Homo sapiens: one gene and its partners. The protein of the gene in region 1 purifies or fractionates together with the protein of each later gene. This does not show direct contact. Each region holds a gene or a part of one and is shown in the gene's direction. Other genes may lie near its edges.

Region 1 (3,751 bases):
AGAAGAATTGCTTGAGTTCAGGAGTTCAAGATCAGCCTGGGCAACATGGCAAAACCCTGTCTCTACAAAAAAGTACAAAAATTAGCAGGGCATGATGGCAGGTGCCTGTAATCCCAGCTATTTGGGAGGCTGAGGTGTGGAGGATCGCTTGAGTTTGGGAGGTTGAGGCTACAGTGAGTTGCGACTGCGCCATTGCGCTCCAGCCTTGGTGACAGAGTGAGAACCTATCTCAAAACAAAAACAAAAAACAAAAAACCCTAGTATTATTAGAAAAAAATTGAACCCATAGGCCCCCCGCAAAAGAATCTCAGGAATCCTCAGGGCCCAGTGATCGTACTTTGAAAAACTTCTGCTCTAGACTTATGTGAAAGAAATAAACCCCTCTTTGTTTAAGACACTTAATTAGGCTTTTAAATACAAGATAAGTTGCATCTCTAGTTCTCAAATAATTTTTGGCAGATTTGCCAAAAATTCAGTCATTATACAGAGATAGAGACTCTTGAATTTTGTAGTAGTTTACTTCAAATTACTACAGTATTTCAAAAACAATATTTATTGTTGATTTAAATAAACATTGTTATTTATTTTTTGAGTCAGAGTCTTGTTCTGTCTCCCAGGCTGGAATGCAGTGGCGGGATCTTGGCTCACTGCAACCTCCACCTTCTGGGTTCAAGCAATTCTCGTGCCTCAGCCTCCTGAGTTGCTGGGATTACAGGCCTGCACCGCTATGCCCAGCTAAGTTTTGTATTTTTAGTAGAGATGGGATTTTGCCATGTTGGCCAGTCTGGTCTGAAACTCTTGGCCTCAAGTAATCCGCCTGCCTCGGCCTCCCAAAGTGCTGGGATTATAGGTGTTAGCCACTGTGCCTGGCCAAACATTGTTGACTTAAATCAACAATGTTTGTTGCTGATTTCCATTAAAGGCTAGAAATTACTGGCCAGGTGCGGTGGCTCACACCTGTAATCCCAGCACTTTGGGAGGCTGAGGCAGGTGGATCACAAGGTCAGGAGATTGAGACTATCCTGGCTAACACAGTGAAACCTCATCTTTACTAAAAATACAAAAAATTAGCTGGGCGTGGTGGCGGGTGCCTGTAGTCCCAGCTACTAGGGAGGCTGAGGCAGGAGAATGGTGTGAACCCAGGAGGTAGAGCAAAAAAAAAAAAAGGCTCAAAATTACTGCAATGTCCACCATTAAGTTTCTGATAAATAAATAAATTTTAAAAACCTTCATACATACTGGTCTAGATTAAACCACACCACAAAACAGAACTCTATCTATATCAGAAAACATTGCTTAATTTTAGGGAAAATGATATACGTTTGTATACTAAAGTGCAATAATCCTCAGGATAGAGCAAGTGAAGAGATTATGGCACAGAACCATTCTTTGATTCTGTTTGCTTCTCAAATATTTCAAATACTTGCTTTATAAATATATAATATTTCCTTTTGAAACATGTCTCATATTCTTAGTATCTCTGTGCTGTGTTCAAAAGTAGGGTAGCATGGCCTTCTCAGGCAGTTCTGCTTGGAGATGAGCACAGCACGCTCTCTTGTACCTCTCCTCCCTGTTCCCAACTGTTACAAACACAGTGAATATTTATTTGGTCCACAACTGGGGACAGTAGAAAGGACACCAGCTTGGAATCAGTTCGGACCTGTGTCTGCTGCACAGCTGAATCCCTGGGAAAGTAAGTTATTTAATCTTTCTGAGTCTGAATTTTTTCACCTGGCATATGGCAATGAAAATACATACATCTCAGATCTACTATGAGGACTAACAGAGGTAAATAAAGCACATAAACCCTTAGCACAATGCTAGCTGTATAATAGATGCTTCATAAATGAGAATTATCATTATTTTAGTTCAGTGTCTAAAGAACTTGTTTAGGTTTTTTAAGGTCTGCTTTCACAATTCTCTTTCAATGGGTAAATTCAAATGCCTAAGCCTCCTCTGGTATGCTACTCTGGAAAGTTAAGTGCTTGTGAGTGTCTTGTTTTGTTTTTTTTTTAACCATTTTTTAAAGCAAAATTTTCTACTTTCCTTTCTTACGACCATGGAGTCATTTAAAGAAGAAGAATGCTCTTATCCTCTTGATTTCCAAAGGGAGTTTAACTTTAAGATGCTTTTTGTGTGCTTATGGTTAAATGTATTACTCTACATTATAAGTTGAATATTACATATTATTCATCATGTAGAAGCCCATCTAGCAAGACAGCCACAGTTTAAAACAGATGAATAGTGTGAACTAAAAACTAAAGCTTGCAAAAATACCCATATTATGCCCCCTAATTATCTAAATTATATAGTAAGAATATAGCCTTTGTAAGAAATTTTTAAAAATGTTTATTTTTTTAAATTTCCAGCTCTTTTAGTGTAGCATGGCAGAAAGAACAATGGCTATGCCCACACAAATACCTGCTGATGGAGATACAGTTAAGTATATCTTTCAAATATAACTCTGCATTTTGTACTTCAATAAGATTATATAGCCTAAAAATATTGACTTGGAAAACTGATGTAGGCATAGAAGATAAAGTCTTGTTTGTTATGTTTGGGCATGAATTAGCTTTTATACTAATTGGAGTTTTAAGTATCAATGGTGATTTAGATAATTGTTACATGTTTTTTGAGTCCGATGACCTTGTTAGCAGTGCAACAGACTATTTCTACTTAACACCAAAGAAATTCAAAGTAAAACTTCTGAATCGCCCAATAAATGAGAAGAACAGTGCTGTTTTGATGGATATATTTGCAGAATGTATGCACTGACAATAAATAATTTTTTAATGAAGTTATTTTAGCAAATGGTTGGATGGCTGCTTGCTGATTGCTTTACTGAGTGTGAGGTTAGAGCAAGTTTTTTTTTTTTTTTTGAGACTGAGTCTGGCTCTGTTGCTCAGGCTGGAGTGCAGTGGCGTGATCTCAGCTCACTGCAACCTCTGCCTCCTGGGTTCAAGTGATTCTCCTGCCTCAGCCTCCCAAGTAGCTGGGATTACAGGCACCTGCCTTCATGCCTGGCTAACTTTTGGATTTTTTTTTAGTAGAAACAGGGTTTCACCATGTGGGCCAGGCTGGTCTCGAACTCCTGACCTCAGGTGATCTACCCGCCTCAGTCTCCCAAAGTATTGGGATTATAGGCATGAGCCACTGCGCCTGGCCTGTCATTGCTTTTCATGAATAACCATCAGAGGAATTTCTCAGGGACTGAAACATTGGCCTATGCTCATTCCATTTTATCTTTGGGCTTTCTTGTTTAACAAATCATGGTTAATACTCCTTTGTTCACATGACTCTAAAACATAAAATTTTAGGATTAGAAGGGATCCCAAAAGCCAATTAGTCAAACATTATGCAAATGCTGATATGCAAATGCTAGCAACAAATCTTTAGCAAGTGTCTTAGTCTGTTTGGGCAGCTATAACAAAATACCTCAGACTTGGTAATTTATATACAATAGAAATGCATTGTTCACAGTTCTAGAGGATGGGAAGTCCAAGATCAAAGCACCAGCAGGTTTGGTGTCAGGTGGGGGCTTACTCTCTGCTTCAAAAATGGCTTCTAGCTGTGTCCTCACATGGCAGGAGAAGCAAACAGTGTCCCTCAAGCTTCTGTTATAAAAGCACTAGTCCTATTCATGTGGGTGGAGCCATATGACCTAATTACCTCTCCAAGGACCCCTCTGTTTTTTAAAAAATTTAAATGATATGTAATATTAATACATATTGATGGGGTACATGTGATATTT
Region 2 (3,651 bases), about 18 Mb from region 1:
GCTACTTGGGAGGCTGAGGCAGGAGAATGGCGTGAACCTGGGAGGCAGAGCTTGCAGTGAGCTGAGATCGTGCCACTGCACTTCAACCTGGGCAATAGAGCAAGACTCCAACTCAAAAAAAAAAAAAAAAAGATAAAATTGGGCCAGGTATGGTGGCTTACTCCTGTAATCCCAGCACTTTGAAAGGCTGAGGCAGGTGGACCACTTGAGGCCAGAAGTTGAAGACCAGTCTGGGCAACATAGCAAGACCCTATCTCAATCAGTCAATCAACCTAAATAAATAGTAAATCTGGTGGCATGCCAAGCACAGGACCTGGGTCTATAATCAAAATTCCTGTCTTGATGGGCACAGTGGCTCACACCTGTAATCCCAGCACTTTGGTAGGCCACAGTGGGTGGATCACCTGAGATCAGGAGTTCGAAACCTGCCTAGCCAAGTATGGTGAAACCCGTCTTTACTAAAAATACAAAAATTAGCCAGGCATGGTGGCAGGCGCCTGTAATCCCAGCTACTCGGGAGGGTGAGGCAGGAGAATCGCTTGAACCTGGGAGGCGGAGGTTGCAGTGAGCCGAGATCGCGCCACTGCGCTCCAGCCTGGGTGACAGAGCAAGACTCCGTCTGAAAAAAAAAACAAAAGAATTCCTGTCTTCTCTCCGAAACAAAGCAGCATCAGTGCCCCCGCAGGTGGGAGGGAGCGCTTGCAGGAGGGAGCAGTGGGTCCGCCACGACGGTCTGGGGAGCAGGTGGGGAGGGGGCAGAGGGTGCAGCGTGTGGTGGGAGGGAGGAAGCCACACTGCTATCTTCAGGTGCTTCCCGCAGCTCCATTTGCAAAGAGCGGATGGGTTTGGGGAAGGAAGGGGTCCCCACCCTGTGCCAATACAGCGTATCAGAGGTATGTTCTCTGGGCTGTCTACAGGTTGGCTTGGGGTCCTGGGGAGGGGCAGGCCAAGCGGGCAGTACTAGGATCGGGTCCCAGCATGACCCGGCTTCACCTTCCCAGAACAAGAATGTGGTGGTGGCTGACTTCGGGCTGGCGCGTCTCATGGTGGACGAGAAGACTCAGCCTGAGGGCCTGCGGAGCCTCAAGAAGCCAGACCGCAAGAAGCGCTACACCGTGGTGGGCAACCCCTACTGGATGGCACCTGAGATGATCAACGGTGAGTGGTTCAGCCCTGCCCATCATGGCCCTCACGGGAAGCCATGGGGGAGCCCAGGAGAGCTGTAACCTCCCAAGCCCCTGGCCCCTCCCAGCCTCCTTGGCTCTTCAGTTACCCTGTGGGTCCTGTTGCTCCTATAACACACTTAGTGGCAGCCAGGCACGGTGGCTCACGCCTGTAATCCCAGCACTTTGGGAGGCTGAGGTGAGTGGATCACCTGAGGTCAGTAGTTGGAGACCAGCCTAGCCAACATGGTGAAACCCCCATTCTTTACTAAAAATACAAAAATTAGCTGGGCATGGTGGTGGGTGTAATCCCAGTACTGTAGTACTGTAATCCCAGCTACTAGGGAAGCTGAGGCAGGAGAATCGCTTGAACCTGGGAGGCAGAGGTTGCAGTGAGCCGAGATCGCGCCATTGCACTCCAGCCTGGGTGACGAGCGAAACTCCATCTCAAAAAATAAATAAATAGAAGACACTTAGTGGCTTAAATAAATGATCATACAGTTCTGGAGTCTGAAGTCCAGCGTCAGCCTCACCGGGCTGAAATCAAGACGCCGGTAGGGTGAGCTCCTTCTGCAGGCTCCGGGGCACCTGTTTCCTGACCTTTTCTGGCTCGTGGAGGCTTCCTCATTCCTCCTGTTGCTGCCCCCTCCTCTGTCTTCAGGGCTGGCTGCAAAGCATCTTCTCTTCTCTGATCTCTGCATCCATCCCCGCATCTCTTTCCCTGGCTCTAACCTTCCTCCTTTTTTTTTTCTTTTTTAAAGAGGGTCTCGCTCTGTTACTCAGGCTGGAGTGCAGTGGTGCCACCATAGCTCACTGCAGCCTCAACCTTCTGGGCTCAAACTGTCATCCCACCCCAGCCTCCTGAATAGCTGGGACCACAGGCATGCAACACCACACCCAGCTAATTTTTTTATTTTTTATTTTTTATTTTTTTTTGAGACAGAGTCTCGCTGTGTCTCCCAGGCTAGAGTGCAGTGGCGTGATCTCAGCTCACTGCAAGCTCCGCCTCCTGGGTTCACGCCATTCTCCTGCCTCAGCCTCCCGAGTAGCTGGGACTACAGGCGCCCGCCAACACGCCTGGCTAATTTTTTGTATTTTTAGTAGAAACGGGGTTTCACCGTGTTAGCCAAGATGGTGTCGATCTCCTGACCTCGTGATCCGCCCGTCTCGGCCTCCCAAAGTGCTGGGATTACAGGCGTGAGCCACCGCGCCTGGCCAATTTTTTAAATTTTTAATAGAGACGGGGGTATCACTATGTTGCCCAGGCTGGTCTCAAACTCCTGGCTTCAGGCGATCCTCCTGCCTTGACCTTTCAAAGTGCTGGGATTCCAGGCATGAGCCACCATGGCCCTCCATCCTTCTGATAGGGACCCTTACGGTGACATTGGGCCCACCTGGATAATCCAAAAGCAGCCCTCCATCTCAAGACCCTCAACTTAATCCCATCTGCAGAGTCCGATGGAAGGTGGGACGTATACAAGTCCCAGGGATCAGGACGCAGTCATCTTTGGGGATCATAGTTCTGCCTCCCACAGGGTCTGCTTCCCTCAGTCCATTTCTTTGCTGTCAATGGTCCTATATATGCCCAGATTATAGGTTATAAAGTCCTTCTACAAGCAGGTGACACATGAACACAGGTTCAGGGCAGGCAGACCCCAGCCATCACCTCATCATAGTTAACCTAGTTAAATTAGCCTGGCATGTGGCGTGGTGCCTAATGCCTGTGGTCCCAGCTACTCAGGAAGCCAAAGCGGGAGATTTACTTGAGCCAAGGAGATCAAGGCTGCAGTGAGCTATGATCATACCACTGCCTTCTAGCCTGGGCAACGGAGTGAGACCCTGTCTCAAGAAAACAAAAAATAGGCCAGGCACAGTGGCTCACACCTGTAATTCCAGCACTTTGGGAGGCTGAAGCAGGCGGATTGCTTGAGGCCAGGAGTTCGAGACCAGCCTGGCCAACATGGTGAAACGCTGTCTCTACTGAAAATACAAAAATTACCCGGGTGTGGTGGCACAGCTACTAGGGAGGCTGAGGCAGGAGAATCACTTGAACCCAGGAGCAGAGGTTACATTGGGCCAAGATTGCACCACTGCACTCCAGCCTGGGCAACAGAGGAAGACTGTGTCTCAAAAAGAAAAAAAAAAAAACCTTCCTGTAATCCCAGCACTTTGGGAGGCTGAGGTGGGCGGATCACGAGGTCAAGAGATTGAGACCATCCTGGTCAACATGATGAAACCCCATCTCTACTAAAAATACAAAAAAATTAGCTGGGCGTGGTTGCACGCGTCTGTAGTCCCAGCTACCCGGGAGGCTGAGGCAGGAGAATGATGTGAACCCAGGAGGCGGAGCTTGCAGTGAGCCGAGATCGCACCACTGTACTCCAGCCTGACGACAGAGTGGGACTCTGTGTCAAACACACACACACACACACACACACACACACACACACACACACACACACAGAGTTAACATAGCCCGCAAAGAAGA
Region 3 (3,651 bases), on another chromosome or scaffold:
AGTAAACAGAAACATTTGTAAATTTTAAATTTCTAAGTTAGTATTACCTTGCTGGTTGTTAAATAGTTTGAATGTATATTTTTTCTTCCTACCTTTACAAAAATAATGGCATATTACATACTGTCCATTTTCTCACTTCACTCTTTTTTACTTTTAACAATATAGCTTGGAGATCATTCCATATTTTTTTTTTTAAGAGATGAGGTCGCCGGGCACGGTGGCTTATGCCTGTAATCTCAGCACTTTGGGAGGCTGAGGTGGGTGGATCACCTGAGGTCGGGAGTTCGAGACCAGCCTCACCAACCTGAAAAAACCCCGTCTCTACTAAAAATACAAAATTAGCCAGGTGTGGTGGCACATGCCTGTAATCCCAGCTACTAGGGAGGCTGAGGCAGGAGAGTTGCTTGAACCTGGGAGGCAGAGGTTGCAGTGAGCCGAGATGGTGCCATTGCACTCCAGCCTGGGCAACAAGAGTGAAACTCTGTCTCAAAAAAAAAAGATGAGGTCTCACTATGTTGCCCAGGCTGGTCTTGAATTCCTGGGCTTAAGCAGTTCTCCTTCCTTGGCCTCCCAGAGTGCTGGGATTACAGGTGTGAGCCACTGTGCTCAGCCATTCCAAAATCTTGACAAGAGATTATTCATTCTTTTTGATGGCCATGTAATAGTCCATAATGTGCCATAATTTATTAACTAATCTTCCACTGATGAATATCTAGGTTGTTTTCAGCTTTTTGTTGTTTAGAAACGTGCTGCTATTAAAAGAAAAGATTCAAAACTCTTCTCAAGTGTTTTAGCACATGTGATTTGGGATGATGGACAATATACCAATTGAAAAATTTATAATGTATTAAAACCTTACCCTCTTACCATTGACTTTCCATTTTTCCATCTTTTTTTTTTTTTTTTTCCTGAGACAGAGTTTCACTCTTGTTGCCCATGCTTGAGTGCAATGGCGCGATCTCGGCTCACTGCAAACTCTGTCTCCCGAGTTCAAGTGATTCTCCTGCCTCAGCCTCCCAAGTAGCTGGGATTACAGGTGCTCGCCACCACGCCTGGCTAGTTTTGTATTTTTAGTAGAGATGGGGTTTCTTCATGTTGGTAAGGCTGGTGTCGAACTCCTGACCTCAGGTGATCCCCCCACCTCGGCCTCCCAAAGTGCTAGGATTACAGGCGTGAGCCACTGCGCCTGGCCTTTTTTTCCATCATTTTTTAAACCTTGTTTTCATTACAATGTCACGGTAGCTCCTCCAACAGTATGTTTAATCTTACCCCTGGTAAATGTTACCTTTTTCTTGCTACAGTGTGAAGATTGCTCCTGGAGCAGTTGTATGTGTAGAAAGTGAAATCAGAGGAGATGTAACTATCGGTAAGAAATAGTTTATTTACTGTTTTTCAAGAATTGATGTGATTTAATCTATTTTAGTGCTTTACAATTAGATACCGTCTTCCATGTTTATTTCACTGATGTCCTAGTTTTATTGACAAAATAATGCATTTTCTCCTATGTGTTTAAATTTCTGAAAGAATGTAGTGTGATGGAGGCTGTGTTTAAACTCCTATCTGAAATACTAATGAGGCTGTATAACAAAGTCATTCATGTATTTAAGAGAGATCTGTTGTGTACCTGCGATGTGCCAGGCACTGTGCTAGTGCTAGAGACACGTCAGTAAGCACAGCAGACAAAGGTGCTGCCTTTGTGGAGCTTCGTGGAGAGCGTGGGCCATGGAGTCAACAGACCTGGGCTACTCTGCTCCTTGCTCCTTTCTTGCTGGGTTACTTTGAACATATTACTTAACCTCTCTAACCTTGATGTTTTTCCCATCTATATAATTGTGTGTATCAGGATCAGGTTCGGCTGCATGTAGGGGTGGCTTACACCTGCAGAGGTTTATTCTCTCATATAAAAAGTTTCAAGGTGAGTAATGGAGGGCTGATCGGTTGATTGTCCAGCATGGAGCTCCGGCCCTGCAGGCCAGGAAGTGATGGCTAGAGCACCAAGCATCATCTTGGATGAGAAAGGGGAGGCGTGGAAGCAAAAGGGCATGTGTTCCAGCTGTGAGTCAGCTCCCTTTAAACAGCCTTCCTGAAAGTTCCACACGACCCTCCTCTGTGTGTCTCATGGCTAAGACAATCTCATGGACACATCAAGCTGCAAGGGAGTTTGGGAGTTGTAGTCTTAGCTGGTTGCATTGCAGCCGCTAATGAGATCAGGGTTCTATTACAAGGAAAAAGAGGAGAAGAGATATTGGATGGCAATGAGCAATTTTCATAACATGCAAAATAGTAGTATCTACCTCCTAGGTTTCTTGAAAGAAAACATGAAAATTGTGAGTAGTAAGCTGTCAATAAATATTTGCTGTTAACGCTGTCAGATCTTCTCAGTGTAGCCTTGCCAGAGTTCAAGTCCAACATTTTACTTACGTGAACTTGACTAAGTTCCTCAAACATTTTACTCTGTTCTTTTAACTGGGGTTTACCTGGATATGGTGCCCTTGTAGTTTTATTGGTGTGAGCTCATTCTTACCAGCAGCCGCATGTCACCTGTATGCTACCAGACTAAAGTGTTCAGTGAACTATTACACTTTCAGAGAGGAAATACACTTTATTTCCTTAAATGAACAGTTTCTTTAATGAAAAAAAAAAAAACCCTGTAACGTCATTTTTTTTTTCCAAAAAAAAATCTAAGCCTCCAAACAATTTAGGCATCTTGTCTTATAAAACCAGTGGAGATTGTGCCAGTATTATGGAACATTGTTAAGAATTTGCCAGGTTAGGACGGGCACGGTGGCTCACGCCTGTAATCCCAGCACTTTGTGAGGCTGAGGCGGGCGGATCACATGAGGTCAGGAGTTCAAGACCAGCCTCAACATGGAGAAACCCCGTCACTACTAAAAATACAAAATTAGCTGGGCATGGTGGTGCATGCCTGTAATCCCAGCTACTCGGGAGGCTGAGGCAGGACAATTGCTTGAACCTGGGAGGCAGAGGTTGCGGTGAGCCGAGATCGCGCCGTTGCACTCCAGCCTGGGCAACAAGAGCGAAACTCCTTCTCAGAAAAAAAAAAAAAGAAAAAAGAAAAAAGAATTTGCCAGGTTGGTTGATTTAATTATTTCTTTTCAGTGCCGTGGTAACTCTTTGTCTTTTGTATTACCTAAACCACTTGCGAAGTGTTTATGAAGCAAAATGAGGAAAGTTATGTTTTTTAATTTTTTACAATCTCTACTGCAGACTGGGACCACATATTTATCAAAATGCTCCTCTGTGTTCTTTTTACTCATCATTTTACTGCATTATAATTGTGGCTATCATCATGATATTCTAGGAATAATACCTTATAGTAGTTTGCAATGCATTCTTCAGTTAGAAGGAAAGTAAGACTGAAGTGATGTAATTAATTATGTAGATTTTCCCTGGCATTTCTACTTCTTCCCCATTTTACATTTTTTCTTTTCTTTTTTTTTTAAATCCCCCAATGTTACAACAACCCCGTTTTGGTTTTTTTTTTCTTTCTTTTTTTTTTTTTGAGACAGGGTCTCGCTATTTTGCCAAGCTAGTCTTAAACTCCTGGGCTCAAGCGATCCTCCTGCCTCAGCTTCCCAAAGTGTTGGGATTACAGGAGTGAGCCATCACACCTGGCCCAACAACAACCCC

The links.
Region 2: the proteins of SEPTIN14 (region 1) and LIMK1 purify together in Homo sapiens (affinity purification with mass spectrometry; one large-scale study listed by BioGRID and IntAct). This does not show direct contact.
Region 3: the proteins of SEPTIN14 (region 1) and DCTN6 purify together in Homo sapiens (affinity purification with mass spectrometry; one large-scale study listed by BioGRID and IntAct). This does not show direct contact.

The regions. Positions count from the first base shown.
Region 1 is NC_000007.14:55,860,630-55,864,380, reverse strand, and holds the start of SEPTIN14 (septin-14), read left to right. Parts: upstream 1-1,628; 5' UTR 1,629-1,693; intron 1,694-2,369; 5' UTR 2,370-2,384; coding exon 2,385-2,438; intron 2,439-3,751. UniProt on the Homo sapiens protein: Filament-forming cytoskeletal GTPase. Involved in the migration of cortical neurons and the formation of neuron leading processes during embryonic development.
Region 2 is NC_000007.14:74,114,801-74,118,451, forward strand, and holds part of LIMK1 (LIM domain kinase 1), read left to right. Parts: intron 1-1,001; coding exon 1,002-1,158; intron 1,159-3,651. UniProt on the Homo sapiens protein: Serine/threonine-protein kinase that plays an essential role in the regulation of actin filament dynamics. Acts downstream of several Rho family GTPase signal transduction pathways.
Region 3 is NC_000008.11:30,162,810-30,166,460, forward strand, and holds part of DCTN6 (dynactin subunit 6), read left to right. Parts: intron 1-1,301; coding exon 1,302-1,366; intron 1,367-3,651. UniProt on the Homo sapiens protein: Part of the dynactin complex that activates the molecular motor dynein for ultra-processive transport along microtubules.